Regions from separate parts of the Homo sapiens genome. Here region 2 is linked to region 1. The links come from fine-mapping of genetic effects on gene expression. A gene starts in region 1. The other region holds a variant in brackets. All regions are shown on one strand. Distances are from middle to middle.

Region 1 (8,334 bases):
ATTCTTAAGTTTAGATATATTTAAAAGAACATAGCCTGATTTGAATGGAAAGTCACTTATCTGTTCATTTGTTGCTAAAATAATCCGAAAACAATGACTGAGGGTACTGGCATGGAGCATGGATGAGTGCCAAGCCTATTGTGCTATAAGATGTTGAGTTCACTTTTATTTTTGAATGCAATTTAGGAATAACATTCCCAGGAATCTGTATATTTTAAGTGTTAGCCCTCATCTGGGCAAACATCTAACTGAATTTTTAAAGGCATCTTTTTTTTTGTTTTTTTGTTTTGGTTTGTTTTTTGGGCTCTCAGGTTTACCACTCTCTCCCCATCTTCCCAGGTTTAGGAGGCAGGCCTCTCCCTTTCCTACCCTCCCACCCGAAGGTGAGTCACTAGAGTGTTACAAGCTTACTGGCAGGGAACACTACAAATTAACAAACAGTAAGTTACCAAAAGGGGATACACCCTTATAAAAGGGTACAGAAAGAACCTAAGAAGCAGGGAACTGTTACACGCTGAACAACTGACAGGCAAAGGGTGAGGCACAAGTGCTCTCTCCACCCCCCAGCTCTAGGCACTAGTTCTTCCTGTAACTTGCTCCACTAGCTCCCGGCCAGGCCCGGGCAACTTTCCACTCTGAGGCATCTGCCTTACAATGCTTTAAGTCTAAAGTACTAGCTTTATAGCAGCCAGAGGAGCTTTAGTCACACTTTCAAGCTGAGCTCCAAAAGGGCAGCTGATAACATTACCATACAACCAGGATTTCTGCTGACATGTGCATCCCCCCTGCCACCTTCACTGGAACCTTTTTTCCCTGCCCTTCCTTAAATCACTACTCATAAGCTATGATTTATTTTTTCGGTAAATAATATTCAAACTAAATCCGGAATGCAGTGAAAGACCTGGTGAGACCCCCCCTCCTCATCTTTTACACACTTGAGAAGACAAACTTTCCCACATTTCTAAACAGTTATGGCGTGTACCTTTGGTGAGTGAAACAGTTGCCGGTGGTAGGCCTAGCTGACGGTTTAAGCCAAGTCACTGGCAATAAAACCCAGAAAGAAAAAAAGGGACAAAATCCTATTTCATCCAGGAATGATTCAGCAAGAGCTGTTCTTTCATTTTCTTACCAAATGCTTAGGAACTAGACTTTTAAGGACATATAAAATCACCTGAAATATCATCAAAAGCTAGGCCACAAAGGGTACTGAGGAGAGGAGGGGAAGAAATTTACAATGACCTTAAAAATTAGCTGCCGGCACAGGCTTCCTTGTTAGCCAATTATCAGCAGGGCTTTAGTCACTCTCCACCCACATTTTAATCCCCATGTGGAAAAATCCCAACATGAAATATTCTTCTGAACATTTGGACGCTCACAATAAGTCACAGGACAAACACACACACAAACACACACACAAGTAAACTAATGTTTAATGTATCAGAATACTCAAAATGCTAACTACCACCCAGCAGCCAAGCAGCTCATCATCCCAGTGTTCGCAGCTGTAATTTAATCTTGTGTTTGCTAGCCACTATACATTTTGTTGTAAGACATCTGGGTTTAAGCTCTACTAACTATTCAGGTGGGTTACCACCGCATCACTACTGTGCATGTGTGCCTGTGTGTGGTTATAAAGGAGACATCTAGATAAATGGACATAACTTAGTTACCCAAACCATCTCCATGGCCTATTAATTCAACATCACAAATACCCCGTTTCATCCGAAGTTCTGAGTTCTGTATAAAGAACTCAATGTTAAAGAGTAAATGCATGTTCAGGCTTGAGGCCACAGGCTGTTCAAGAATCAGGGACGCCTAGTCTGTCACTAGCCAACCGTTTGACCTTGAGCAAGTCACTTCACCTTCCTAGGCTTGGGGCACACATCTGTGATGTCTAAACCCCCCAAAATTAGCTCAGGAAGTAAACTTTTTTCTTTTTCTTTTAAGGCAGGAGAGACAAAGAATGAGCTTTAAAGTGCATGTTTACAGAAATGATCAAGGGTTTGACGGTGTGGTAAAAGCACAGGCCACTAACCCAGACTCCATCAGGGGAATGGAGAGGCCCTGTACTCCGCTCTTTGATGCCACCTGACCTGGACCAGCCCTCCACGCTGCATGCTTTTAAAAGCGAGGCGAGTTGTGCATTTCCACTTGTGCCTGTTCTCCCCACCAGGTCCAAGCCTTTCAATTACCTCCTTTAAAACTCCCTTAGAGTCCCCAAGGAGTGCAGCCTCCCTCTGCTCCCGACACTCTGTCTACACCCAGAAGCCTCAGGGCCTTCAAAGACCTACTCAGTGTCTGCACTGTGCTAAACCCTGGAGACAACGAAGTGGATTCTCTCCCATTTGTATTCTCATGACATGGTCACTTTCACCCCATGAACTCCGAGGTTATTCTGTGTAAATTTTTCTCAACTAGACTTTGGCTCATTTGGGGTCCAGGGCCCAGTCTCCTGCACGGGTAATAGCTAGGGGTAATCAAGTCTTCGCTACAGAAATGTAGGACAGCGGCGTTGTGACGATATTCCCACCACGCTCCGCGCCGCTCTCCAGCCCCAAGACCCCTCGTTTCCTTCAGGGACCGCCCTTTGGTGCTTCCGCGACGCTGGAAACCGGCAGAGATTCCTACCACCGTATTGCCTGCAGCCTCCAGTCCTTTTTCGGGTTTCTTGTACCCTGAGGCCCTGGTGGGTCTGCCTATCCTCCTTCAGGGCTCGTCCCTTCAAAAAAAATCTGCACGCCTCTCCCCACCATCGGATGACAACTCCAGTTGCCATCGGTGCATCCTGTGTTTACGGAAAGTGGCCCAAGAAAGCCCTCAAAAGTATACCTTAAAGGCCATCTTAGGGCAGTGAAGACACACCCTTTCTGGCACCAGCCCGCCCAGCCGGCTTCGCACTTAGAAGCAGCCAGTTTTTTCTTTGGGGGAGGGCGGCCGCCTCTGCGCGGAGCAAGCTAAGCCCCAGCGTCCCCAGGAGAAGGAGCCCCGAACCCGGAGGCTGCCCCCGCCGGAACCGGGGCCGCGGCGGGAACGGAGGCCCGGGAGGAGGCCCCGGCGGAGCGCCCCAGGGGAAGGGGAGGAGCGCGCCTTTCCTCAGGGCACGGAGGGCGGAGGGAAAAGGAAGGAGAAGGAGGTGACGGCGGTCGCAGGGAGGGGAGCCAGGCTCAGGGATGCCGGCTCAGTCCCGGGGCCGCCCCCGCTGCTGCAAGCCCCCTCCTCCCGGCCCCGAGGCTTCCCAAGCACCGCCTCTCGGAGCCCCCGGCCCGCTCGGCCTCCGGGGCGCGCAGCCCCCGCCCAGGGTCCGCCCACCCCCCTAAGCAATGCCGCGCTCCAGCCCCTCGGCGCTCCCTTCCCCCGCCCCCCGTTACTGCGCTCCCTCCATTTCCAAACTGCGTCGTCTTTTAAGCCGCGCGGCTCTGCCAGCCCACTCCACGCGGCGCCGCTTCCTCCTCCGCCGCCTCCCGCTGGCCGCGGTCGCCCTCCCGACTTCCTCCTCTTCCCCTCGAGGGCTCCCCGAGCCCCCTCCCCGGGCGCGCCGGACACTCACCCCCTTCCCCATGGTGGCGGTGCTCAGTGCCCGGCGCCGGGTCCTGTCGCTGGAGAATCAGAGAGAAAAGCACAGAGCAGCTCCCGGCCGAGCGAGCGGGACCAGGGGAGCCAAGTGGAGGGAGCTAGGGCTGCCGCGGGGCGGGAGGGTGGGAGGGCGGCCGGCGGCTCGGGCCGATGCCGCCGCCGCTGTTGCTGCCGCCGCCCGGGCTGCTACCGCTGTTGCCACGTGTCCGCCTCCTCCCGCCGCTGCTCTGCGCCCCAGACCCCGCCGCAGCTCCAGCCCGCGCCTCCTCCTCACTTCCTAAAATATGCAACCTGCGTGCTGGCCCCGCCCACGCCGCGAAACGTCACCGTTACCGGAGCAACCTGACACCGGCCGTGGGCCTGGCTCCGCCCCCTCCCGAAACCCCGCCCACGGGCCCGGACAGCGCCTGCTGCGGCCAGTCCTGGCTCCCGGCAGGAGGGCGCCCAGGTCTGGGACAAGCGTGTCCACCGTGTCCCGGGAGGGCTGCGGGGCGCTCCTGCTGGCTGAACAGCGGGGACTCGGCGGCCTTGGCCCTCCCACGCCCCTCCTCCCGCTGCCCTGCATGACCCGCCTACTATGTAGGGCCCAGGAGGTCCGCAGTGGGTGCGGTACGGTCTCGGAACTGGGCTCCCCCAGTCGCCGCCGACCCGGCACCAGAAGTCGTGGGCGGAACGGCTTTTCCAGCGCTTCGGCGATCTCCTCTGGGACTCAGGGATGCTGGAGGGGGCTGGCGCTCGGGTGTGATTGCAGCCAGCGCCTGACTGAGGGACTCCGCCCCTCTGTGGAATCCAGGCCCCGCGCCCACCTGCGGATGGCCTCCCCGGGCGCTTGGTGCTCTCAGAGTGCCTCCTGTGACTTGGGGTCCTCTTTATCCACTTCCCGCTCCGTCATAGCTGGAATCGATCTGAACTGGCATCGCCAGAAGTTTCAAGCGCCCTCCTCCCACCACCTCTCTTTCTTCGAGATTCCAAAATGAGAATCTGAAGGGCGACCAGCGAATTCATTCACGCTATTGTGTGAATGTAACCTGCTTGTCCAGTTTGGGGATTCTCTTTTTAGGGAAGAAAAACCTGAAACCCAAAGGAATGCGTATCCTTAGCTAGAGGAGCTAAATCAAGGGGGAGGCGTTTGAGGACTTGCCAGGTGCCTCTCCACGCCTCCACCTGTCACGGCAGCATCTCCAGCACAGCCTTGGGTTCTCTGGGGGGGCCCAGGAAACCACCACTCTCCCCGGAGATCCCTGGTTCCACTGCACTTTGGGGCTTCTCTGTCATTATAGCTTTTGCTTCTTAGCAAGAGGCTGCAATGGCTGAAGTTCTCCAACATTTTAAAAAACAAAGTATTATTAACAAGGTTTGCAGGAAGTCAAGTACTCTGGGAAAGGCCAGGATATTGACTTTCTAAGCAAAGGTTCCTAAGTTAAAGCCAACTCTATCAACTTCAAGTATTCATGTAGCATGAACAAACAAGGATATGAAACTGGAAAAAATGGAGAAGGAAGGAAAGAAAGGAAAAACTAGAAACTGTGTTGTCAGTTACATCATTAGGGTAATTCTCATCCCTTCTTACAAGATAGTTTCTTACACGAGTCTCTTCTCCTCAAGAATGTATTGTTAAAGGTTGATGTCTCCTACAGTGATCTAGAGACTTGGTTCAATCATTCTAGGCCATAGAGAGCAGAGGAATTGTAAATAGAATTCAAAACCCTGACTGCCTGGAGAAGAGCCCCCAAATTCAGAACAGAATTCCTTAGACTGTTAACAGAGGGTTACAGAGTGTTCGGGGATCCATCTCTAAGCTTCTAGAAAATGCTTTCTTTACATGCTTGATAGCCTCAGTTACTGTACTTTGTAAGATGCTTTTGCTTGCTAAAGATAGCTTGTTTAAGATTAATTACTCCTGGGCCAGGCACTGTGGCTCACGCCTGTAATCCCAGCACTTTGGGAGGCCGAAGCGGGCGGATCATGAGGTCAGGAGATCAAGACCATCCTGGCCAACCTGGTGAAACCCCGTCTCCACTAAAAATACAAAAAAAAACTAGCTGGGCGTAGTGGCACATGCCTGTAATCCCAGCTACTCGGGAGACTGAGGCGGGAGATTCGCTTGAACCACAGAATCGGAGGTTGCAGTGAGCTGAGATGGCGCCACTGCACTCCAGCCTGGTGACAGAGTGAGGATCCATCTCAAAAAAATAAATAAATAAAAATAAAAACAAAGATTAATTACTCCTTGGGCCCTGGTCTGAATGGGAAAAGTGCCGCGGCAACAACTAAATATATAAAGCACGGGTCGGAACAACGTAGATTTCTCCTGCCAGCTGATCTCCTTTTTCTCCCCTCATAAGTAAAATTCTCATTCATTCACTCAACAAAATAACCCTGATAGATCAAGGCACTTCCCTTTGTATCTAGAGCTATTTATTTGGCAACTGAAAATTGCTGAAGGTCCTTTCAGGAGGATCCCAGAGTTCTAGCTGTGTTCCGGTGTGAAGAAAGGGCAAAAAATATAAGAAACATTATCTTAAATCTGTATTTTGCTTTTGATGCCACACAGTAATTTCAGATGCACAGTGCCCTTGAATTCTCACAAGTCTTTGAGGTAAAGAAAAAGGTAAGGCATGACCAAGTCTGAGGCGCAGAAGGAAATCTCAGATATGAGAGAGACACCTTGGAAAATGGGTAAGCAAAGGAGGAAAAGTCCTTTTTTTTTTTTTTTTTTAAGAAAAAGCCTTCTTTTCTTCCCTTGGAAGAGTGGCTTCTGAATGAAATGAAACCTTATAGATGAAACATCAAGCTCCCTCATTTTATGATGAAGAAACTGAGGCCCAGGGAGTAATTGGTATTGAATATTCCAAGAATAGTGGCAAGACTTTCAGGTAGCTTTTCTAACTCCAGTGCAGGGGACAAATTTGGATTCTAGAAGAGAGGGTGAAGAAAGCAAAGGCTCTCTATTCTGTCTGCTGCTTATCCTATCAACTCTTTTCAAGCTTCTAACTTGGGGCACAGTTAAACTGATTGGCCTGGAGACTCAGCATTTATAGACCTTAAGGCTGCCAAGTATGGATAGCTTCGAGGAGAATTTGATCACAACTGTGGATGGTTGCTCCAGTCATTGTGAATAGAGTCAGCAGATGTATGAAAAATATGATGCAAGTCAGTTTTTTGAGCCAAGAACGCTAGCACTTTGAGTATTTGCTGAATTGAATAAACACATCATTGCAATTAAAGGCTTTAAAATATGAGTTGGAGCCCACACCAACTTAGCATTTTCCATAGGACACAAAAATTTTGGGGATCTATGAGCTAGAGATCTGGAAGGACAGAATTTTCTTTGGCTTTGTGTGCTCCCGAGTTAGCATGGAAACAGTCATAAGCATGCATCTTTATCCTTTACCTATTTCCCACATTATCCAGAATTTTCCACGTTACCCAGAAAGCCACTCTTGCTGCTTTAAAGTCAACTGTCTTCATCATTCAAAGTTCCCCCTAGCCATTATCTGTGCCTCCATTGCAAATCTCTGTGCCTCCATTGCAAATCTATTTCCTTTTCTTCTGTTCAGCAGCAGACATATCACCTGTCTTTAAAAGCACAGTTCTGGGTGCATTGCTGACTATCAAAATCTGTCAGCAAATAATTCTGACTCCTATAACTTTTCCTCCCAGACTCTCCATTCTTACCTTTTTTTTGGTTTGTTTTTTTTGAGATGGAGTCTTACTCTTTTGTCCAGGCTGAAGTGCGGTGGTGTAATCTCGGCTCGCTACAACCTCTGCCTCTCGGGTTCAAGGAATTCTTGTACCTCAGCCTCCTGAGTAGCTTGGATTACAGGCACGCACCACCGTGCCAGGCTAATTTTTGTATTTTTAGTAGAGACAGGGTTTCACTATGTTGGCCAGGCTGTTCTCGAATTCCTGACATCAAGTGATCTGCCTGCCTCAGCCTCCCAAAGTGCTGGGATTACAGGTGTGAGCCACCACGCCGAGCCATTTCTTTCTTTCTTTTTTTTTTTCTTTGTTTTGAGACGGAGTCTCGCTCTATCGCCCCAGAATGGAGCGCAGCCGAGCCATTTCTTTCTTTCTTTTTTTTTTTCTTTGTTTTGAGACGGAGTCTCGCTCTATCGCCCCAGAATGGAGTGCAGTGGCGCGATCTCGGCTCACTGCAAACTCCGCCTCCTGGTTCAAGCGATTCTCCTGCCTCAGCTTCCTTAGTAGCTGGGACTACAGGCGCCTGCCACCACACCTGGCTAATTTTTTGTATTTTTAGTAGAGACTGGGTTTCACCGTGTTAGCCAGGATGGTCTCGATCTGCTGACCTCGTGACCTGCCCGCCTCTGCCTCCCAAAGTGCTGGGATTGCAGGTGTGAGCCACCGCGCCCGGCCCCCGAGCCATTTCTTAATCCTTTTGAAAGCTCCTTAGTATTCTTTTAAACATATTTTCTCCTGTTAGTGGTGGTTGAAGACTTCAGGTTGTGCCTCTGGGAAACTGGGAAATTTGAAAGAGTCTGCATTTACTTGGTAACTATTGTAGGTTATCACCAACCACAACAGAATCAAGTCCTTGGTGTTTTACTCAGCATCCTTTTAACCCAGCTGCCCTTTAAATAATTTGCTGTTATTAATAGCGGTCTTCGTAAATAAAGCAGTAATAAAGGATTCTTTAGTTGTTTCCTGTGTGTTTTATACCAGATCCTGAGCCAGGATTCTGCCTTCTCCTTTAGCACTCTCTGCCAATACAGTTCTACTCCCCTTACCCTAGTTCACAAC
Region 2 (8,334 bases), 22 kb before region 1:
ATCTTGGTGTACACCTTAAATAGCTCTCACCTTCCTCTACTCCAGTCACAATTGAGGCAAAGTTGTCATCCAGAAGAATCATGTCAGCAGCTTGCTTGGACACATCTGAGCCAGCAATCCCCATAGCAACCCCAATGTCTGCTTTCTTCAAAGCTGGAGAGTCATTCACACCGTCACCAGTCACAGCCACGATAGCACCCTACCCCAGAAAAGGGAAAACGGGTTAATACCAATCACTTTTCCTAGCGATGGAAATAGTGCGATGCATGCCCCCACTGAGCACTCATTACAGACACTGCTCCTTTCCTATTGAGACTATTTATGAAGCCTGAGAACCGTCACAGGCAAGTATTCACACAGGCCCTACACCAAATAACAGAACTGAGAAGTGACAACAAACATAGCCCCCAGCATTAACAAGAGCTACTCAAAGTAATGACTCTGGTGGGTGGCACTCCAGAAAATGCCATTCCTGTATGCACGCCCTGTAGTCTGACCACTCACATCTCTATTGCAAATACTAGGACCCCATATCAGATGACTCCACGGAGCGGTCAGGCTCTGGGACACAGTGGACACCTGGACTTTAAAGTGCTTCTGTCACTGCTAAACCATTAACAAGTCACCCTCTCTATGCCTATGAGCTTCCTACTGGCCTATTTATACTGAGTCTAATACAGCGAGGTATGCATCCATCCATCACCGTTGCTCTGTTTCCACTGGAACTCCAATCCCTAAAGCCAATAGTGCCCAAAGCAGCCTGATCCTTGTGCTGGCTGACCTGTCTTTGGCAGCCTTCCACAATGATGAGCTTCTGCTGAGGGGAGGTCCTGGCAAACACTATCTCAGTGTGGTACTTCAAAATGTCATCCAGCTGCTCGGAGGTCATGTCCTTTAGATCACTGCCGTGTACTACGCAGGCCTTGGCATCCCTAGAATTAGGACAAAAAAAAAAAAAAAGTCACGCATCACATCACCAGCATGTGTCCATCACCTCAAGAGGGGATATTCTTATGCAGATCACTTTGTAAACAAAACAAAGAAGGAATTTTCCCCAGCACATAAAAGCTATTAAGTGTTCAGTACTTTACAGGTTACAGAGCATTTTCATATATTTTATCTCATTTGAGGCTCATGATGATCTCTAAGGCAGGCCTGTCTGTATTCTTCCTTTCCCTATCTTTATTAGACATGCTGAAATATAACCAAGTTTTAGCTGGGTGTGTGGCTCATGCCTGTAATCCCAGCACTTTGGGAGGCTGAGGTGAGTGGATCACTTGAGGTCAGGAGTTCGAGACCAGCTTGCCAAAATGGTGGTCTAAAAATTCAAAAATTAGCCGGGCATGGTGGTTGGGGCCTGTAATCCCAGCTACTTGGGAGGCTGAGGCAGGAGAATCACTTGAACTCAGGAGGTGGAGGTTGCAGTGAGCCAAGATCATGACACTGCACTCCAACCGGGATGACAGAGCGAGACTCCATCAAAGAAAAAAAGAAATATAACCAAGTTTTAGAAAGTGGCAGAGCTGATACAAGACCAAACCCTCCTCTAACCGTAACATAGGGTGAAAGGGCCCTAAACCTTAAAACAAAACCAATTTGCTATTATCTGTTTTACTTCATTGCCAAATGTCTCCTGTGTTTGCCTGAATGGCCTAAGTAATTGTCCCTTCCTTATTTTATTTTGTTAGTGTGGACCTGGAAAGTGTCAAGATGCTAGGTGCTAGGCAGTAGAGCTCAGTGGTTAACAGCATGAAATCAGAAGCTAGACTGCTGAATTTACTGCATGATTTCACCAGTTCTGAGGTACTTCAAAAGCCTCTTGAATCCTTACCTTCCCTGCTCTGCAAATAATAGGTCACCATATCAAGCTCTTAGAACAGTAAATACCATCTAAGTGCTAATTATTATGACTTGCTCTTACTTAAAACCCTTCTTAGGAATGACAAGGTTGCTTTCTGGCAGTGCAGGTACATTTCCTACTCAGAGCAAGCCTAGATGCAAACCATTATAGAACCACGCTGAAGATTTTAAACCATCACTATTTGCTTGTTCACAGCAGACTGTGATTTGAGCTTCCTGCCTTACCTGGGGTTCACCTGGCTGACTGGGATGTTGAGGCGGGCAGCAATGTCTTCCACGGTCTCATTGCCTTCTGAGATGATGCCCACACCTTTGGCAATAGCTTTAGCTGTGATTGGATGGTCTCCTGTGACCATGATGACCTGTAATAAACAAGACAATGTGTTGAATGCAACTGCCAAGTAAATGACCTTAAAGTCTTATATCCAGTAGGCAAGAGTAAATACTAAGGATGATTCGGCTTAGACTATCAAAAGGAAAGGAATGCAAATATAAAACTAATAAACATCGATTAGCCAAAAATATAAACATATATATCCACAGAAAGGAAACACAAAGGCAATACTCAGGTTTTATCTTGGTATACAATCACTAGCATACACAATGTCTATTTTTCCTTCTACAGAGTTACATAAAAATACTTGAAAATTACTAAAACCAGCAAAAAAAAAAAAAAAAAAAAAGGATAAAAATCTGATGCTGGTGGGACTGTGAAGACACCACATGCTACTGGCTAGCATTCTCAAATTGGCACAACTTGGAGGAAAAGCAACATGTGACAAGAATTCAAAATTGTTATTTTTTGATGCAGTGATTATACTTAGAATATACTTTAAAAAGAAGCAGTCGGAATGGTGAGGAAATAACTTCTACAAAGCTTTTCAGGGCAGTATTAATCCTGAGAGTAGGCCGGGTGTGGTGGCTCACGCTTGTAACCCCAGCACTTTGGGAGGCTGAGGTGGGCAGATCACCTGAGGTCAGGAGTTTGAGACCAGCCTGGCCAACGTGGCGAAACCCTATCTTTACTTAAAAATACAAAAATTAGCTGGGCGTGGTAGCGGGTGCCTGTAATTCCAGCTACTTGGGAGGCTGGGGCAGGAGAATTGCTTGAACCTGGGAGGCGGAGGTTGCAGTGAGCCGAGATCGTGCTATGACATTCCAGCCTGGGCAATAGAGCAAGACTCTGTCTCAAAAAATAAATAAAATAAAATCCTGAGAGTAAAAAACAGAAACCAAATACCCAGCAACAGGATATTAGTGCACTTGAGTAATATTCAGCTACTTAAAAAAAGACAGATACACAGAGGACACCAAACACTCATTAACAAACAGTTAACTGAAAACACAGAAGATATGCCATTCATTGCATAAGGTACATTAACTTAGAATAATGCAAGTATTTTAAAACTTCAAGTCTTTTGCTGTTTTTACTTTGCTTACATTTCTTTTTTACACAATTGCTTTCCAAAAAATTTTTAATTCCTCGTGTGTTTACACCATCATATTTTAATACTATCTGGTCTTTTCTGGGTGGAAGTAAAGCTTTGGAGATGAGAAATTAATACTCCAGGTGAGATAGAACAGCTGGCCATCTGGACCTCAAAAGGCAACATTCACTGAGTAGGGTGTCCCAAGGCACTAAGAGATGAAGCCAAGGAGGCGCCTGGGCACTACCTTAATTCCAGCACTTCGACATTTGCCCACGGCATCAGGAACGGCCGCCCGTGGAGGGTCAATCATGGAGATGAGCCCAACAAAGCACAGATTATCGA[T/C]AGGGAAATTCACATCGTCAGTGTCAAACTGGAACCCTTCAGGAAACTGTTCATCTGGCAGAAAGAGGTGGCAGAAACCTGCGAGGAGGACAGGAGCCTTTGAAAATTTCAGTGACGCTGGGCAGTAAGAAGGACAACAGCAGCCTATTCAGCCCGCCTACCTTTCTCTGGAGTGTTTACTTTGGAAAATTTTTAAAGTCTATATTTTTATAACAGAGTGAGGGTTTTATTTAACATTTATGAACGATAGAGTCACTGAAAGAAAAAAAGCATTTGAAAGACAGAATCCATCACACCAGGCCTCAAAGGAATTGGAAATTGTTTAATGTGGAGAAGACTGAATTGATAACACTAATTTTGAGCACCAGGATATTAGGGTTCTAGACTTGCCCACTGATGATGACATTAAGTTATTTGGATTTGGCAAATCATGGAATTATCTGCCTCAGCTGCCTTCTCTGGAAACATCAAGGCCATACCTCTGCTCTCTTGTTCATTTAACTGAAACATATTACTGAGCACCAATGTGGGACATCATGCTAGCTACTTTTGAGGATAAGTACAGATCAGATGCATTCTGCCCAGGGGGTTTATCATCTAGTATAGTAAATACAAGAATCAAGATAATGTAAGACATTCTTTTCAATGTTGTATGACGTTACAATGATCTTTAACGTGCCATGTGGACTCAAAAGAAGAGAGACTGCTTCCACTTTGGGGTGGTGGAAGTAGGGAAGTGAAAAACACTTAAAGAGAAGATAGCAATCCTTCGGTTGGATAGACACATACGAAAGATACCATGAGTTAGATTTACCCAAGTTAAGAAGAATAGGAAGCATTATATAAATAATGAATGTAGTATCTGTCAACCTACAAAGTATTATAAATGCCACTTTCCCAAATACATTAGACAATGGGTAAAGTGAACTTCTCAGCCTCAGTAGCTGTCAGGGTAGAAAAAAATAGGTAGCATCTTAGACTAAAAGTTTACCGTTAGTCTAGTTTCTAAGCTGAGCACATAAGTGCTCATGTAAATTCACACCCATTCCAAGGCAGTCAGGAAATAGTATGTCTAACTTAGACACACTAAGAATTAATTAACTTTAATTAGGCTTATAAGTCATGTCCACAGCAACAAAGGTTAGATAAGAAAGATATTCTTCCACCATTTTTTTTTTTAAACAAACAGAACTGACTAGCATGAGACCAAAGGTCTAAGTACAAGTCAGAAGCAAACCATCAGGACGTTGTTTCTCACAGCCCAATACGCTGAACATTTCTTCAGCACTTATTGTTTTCAAAATAATAGGGGGCAAATAAACAAATAGGAGGATTGCCCCTAAAAGATGTAGAGGAAGGTCAACAAGACATAGAGGTTCATAGGATCACTTGTTAACTGTCTACCAGACTAGGTTACTGGATAAAAACGTGCCCAGGCACTCTGTTACCAGGTTATCTGCATACCTAGGACTCGTTCTCCGAGGCCCCCCAGCTCCAAATAGGCGTTCTGAAAGGCGTCTTTCAGCTCCTCATCCAGGGGCTGCTCCTTGCCGTGGAGGAGGATAGAGCTGCAACGGTCTAGGATCCTTTCTGGGGCGCCCTTCATCACCAACAGGTGTTGGGGCTCCGATGTGTTGGGGTTCTTATGAATAGACAACTGTGAAGGATTGTTGAGACATAAACATTGGATGGTTGGATGTGTGGCAGTCCATGGTGGAAAACAAAGCTTCACTTACTATTTAGTATTTGCTATAAAAGACCCAAGATCCCTTCTTTCTGAACTCTGAAGTATCTTACACCTGTAACATACTTTGAATGCTACAGAAAAAAAAAAAAATGAGCACTATGATATATTCATAAATTCCTGACATTTGTTCACATTAAAAAAGAACATACGAAATTTCAGAACACAGGGATTGGGGAACACTTGTGTACACATACCTCCAGCCACCTCCCCACATGCCCACACCCACCCCAAACCACAAGTATTCAAAAGGGCTCAACAGTGTTTTGCAAGAGGCTTCATTTATCCTGCTGATATTCAACTAAATTATGGCATTCTATGGTAATCAAGGGCAAAATTTAAAGCTAAAGCTTATAAAACTCCAAAGGGAGAATATTTCCTCTTCCTGCTCATGTACCTCCCCTCTTTGTCCCCCAGCTTGCCCTCGCCCTCCGTGTACCCATCGATCTTCAGACCTGGTACTTGTTGGTGGAGTTGAAGGGTATCTCGACGATTTTGGCGTATCTTTCTCTCATCTCCTTCACGGAACCACAGCACAGCTCTATGCACTTTAAGAGTGCTGACTCAGAGGCATCTCCTGCAACTGCCCGCTGTGAACAGAGACATCATCTGTAAATTATCTCCAAAAAATTTCACTGAGGCATCACTAAAAAACAGGAAAAATAACTCAAGACACATTCCAATCTTGTCAGAGGTAGCAGAGGATGGGCAAGAAGGAAGCAGCGGTGTTAAGTGGGACAGGAGTCCCTCTAGCCCCGACCACTGCTGTTCACAGTGCTTCAGACTCAAACCCCAACGTCCTTCCCCACCCCACAGCAGCTTCTAGTGAAAGAAGGGTGTGGGAAGGTGTCACCTTCCCTAGAAGAGGTATTAACACACCCTTCCAACCTACTGCAGTCTATTTCTATCTTCCCCTGGCCTACTGAAAAGTCTCAAAGCCAATGCTATTCCCAACTACCTACTTCTGGTTACTTATCTGAAAATACCAAGTGAGAGATTAAACATTTATAGCACCTTTCATTACCGTAGAATTCGTAAGAAAATGCTTAAGGTCTCAGGACTGGGGACAAGCTGCCTGTGTCAAGGGCAAAGTAGAAGACTGTGCATTCTAATCATAACTGTGCAAAATTAACTGGGCCTGAAGGATGTGAACTGAAAGCTATTACCAACTCCAACAGTAATAAAATCGAACCACGTAACATTTTAGTTAAAGCCCATGCTTCAGTGACACACATATTTTCTATGATACATGATGACACACTTATATTTTGACATACTGAAAGCATTTTCAGTTGTAAACAAATTTTATATAGGTAAACCTTTTAGAACCTTAACATGTAAGGCTGCATATGCAGATGAACAGATCAATGCTCAGAAGTATAGCAGCTCCACAGAGCAAGAAAGTTGGCTGGGTTTGGAAAGAAACACAAAATAAGTGGGGGACATTTTAAATAAAAGCCACTTATTTTAATAAAAGCCATTTTTAATAAAAGCAGAATAGGGCTGCTTCTCCCTCCCCGCTTTTTAGTAATAATGCCATCAACATGGCCGAACTCCAGAAATACTTGGAATACAGCTTCTGCTACCTTTCTGGGGTTTTTTAATCAGGAAAGATTTGATACTTGTGGGACCTGATGCTCAAAGCCTAGAACATTTCCACTTTGAGGTAAAGAAAAACATGAAACATTTATCTCAAGTTTTATCCTCAAGATACACAACATTATCCTCAAATCAACATCAATTCAATGCCAAGAAAATCTCCTTTGCAGAATAAATGAACCCTATCCTCATCACAGAAGGCATCTGAGTTACATCCAAGCCATATTCCCTTTGGCAACTTAGTTTATACCCACAACTACTACAGGCAGCTTCACAGAGAATGTGGGACCCAGAGAGCCTCACATAGCTTTCTTCTCCTACAGGACTTTGTACAATTCATGATCCTTCTGAGACTGCATCTTCACTTGGGCAGCATAGTAAAATCTCAATCATTTCAAACTGCATCAGAATTCCACAGGCTAAGGCTGGGCTTATTTTGGCCTGGAGCTTATTTTTACATCATTAGTAAACAAGCTAAGAACCAATAAGATAAGATAAGCTGAGCTATTTCAGGAAAATAAATGGCTTAAAGGAGTTACTGGAATCTACTGTATCCTAATATGCAAATACGATTATGGAGTCACTGCAGCCCTCAGCTCTCACTGTCCACTAGGTTAGGTGATAACATATAAACTCAAGAGTAGTAAAAGCAGATGAATTAGGTTTTTCACCAATAAAGACTGTCTTCCGTCTCCTCCCCTCCCACTTTGGTCAGATTTTTACTGCATCTTCCCTTTTTAATCAACCTATATGGAGCAGGGGGTCCTATAATACATCAGGATCTACAGGCAACACAATGTAAGTTACACACAGCAAAGTACTGCACAGACCACTCCAGGTGTTCTACAGTGAACAGTCACACAGACCACAAAGGTAATTTGCTACTTTTAACACTCAAATGGCAGTTCTCATGTGCTGTCTACATCCCTCCATTAGTTAACTCTTGAGCATACCTTAAGAATAGGTAGGTTTTCCTGGTTAGCCTGAAACACTGCCCTGTTACAAAGACCTGCAATTCTGGACAGAGCAAGCCAGGTAGCTGAAGTCTTGTCAAAAGAGACACCTGATGGAGGCAAGAAAACACAACAGAACAACAATGCATTAACTTCAAAGGCTGTGTTCTCAGTTCTCCTATTAAAGTCCCATAGAAATCTGCAGTGATACATCTCATTTCCCAATTAATGAAACCAATCACATTTTAGGCATTCTTCAGTCACGTTTGTAGGGCAATTTAAAGTTTCTACTGACATGCAAAAAATCAATATCCCATACCCTTGACTCTTCACTAAATGATAAAAAAAAAAAAAACAAAAAAGAAAGAAAAAGCTGCCATGAGCTTAAAAAAAAAAAAGAAATTTC

Evidence for each region.
Region 2: its variant is fine-mapped to the expression of ATP1A1 in whole blood (TOPMed, PIP above 0.99).

Annotation. Positions count from the first base shown.
Region 1 is chr1:116,368,737-116,377,070 of GRCh38, reverse strand. It overlaps ATP1A1 (ATPase Na+/K+ transporting subunit alpha 1), which reads right to left and starts at 3,827. Exons shown (of 23, transcript NM_000701.8): 1 at 3,548-3,827. The coding sequence starts at 3,559. RefSeq lists an enhancer at 2,451-2,570 and silencers at 2,941-3,240, 3,671-4,200.
Region 2 is chr1:116,390,486-116,398,819 of GRCh38, reverse strand. ATP1A1 (ATPase Na+/K+ transporting subunit alpha 1) reads right to left here. Exons shown (of 23, transcript NM_000701.8): 10 at 7,929-8,038; 11 at 5,832-5,966; 12 at 5,097-5,289; 13 at 3,535-3,710; 14 at 2,086-2,222; 15 at 782-932; 16 at 31-199. ATP1A1-AS1 (ATP1A1 antisense RNA 1) reads left to right here. Exons shown (of 3, transcript NR_027646.1): 3 at 5,794-5,955. Among named protein-coding and RNA genes, the nearest start is that of ATP1A1, 21 kb to the right of the region's middle. The variant T/C (reference allele first, on the strand shown) is at 3,633.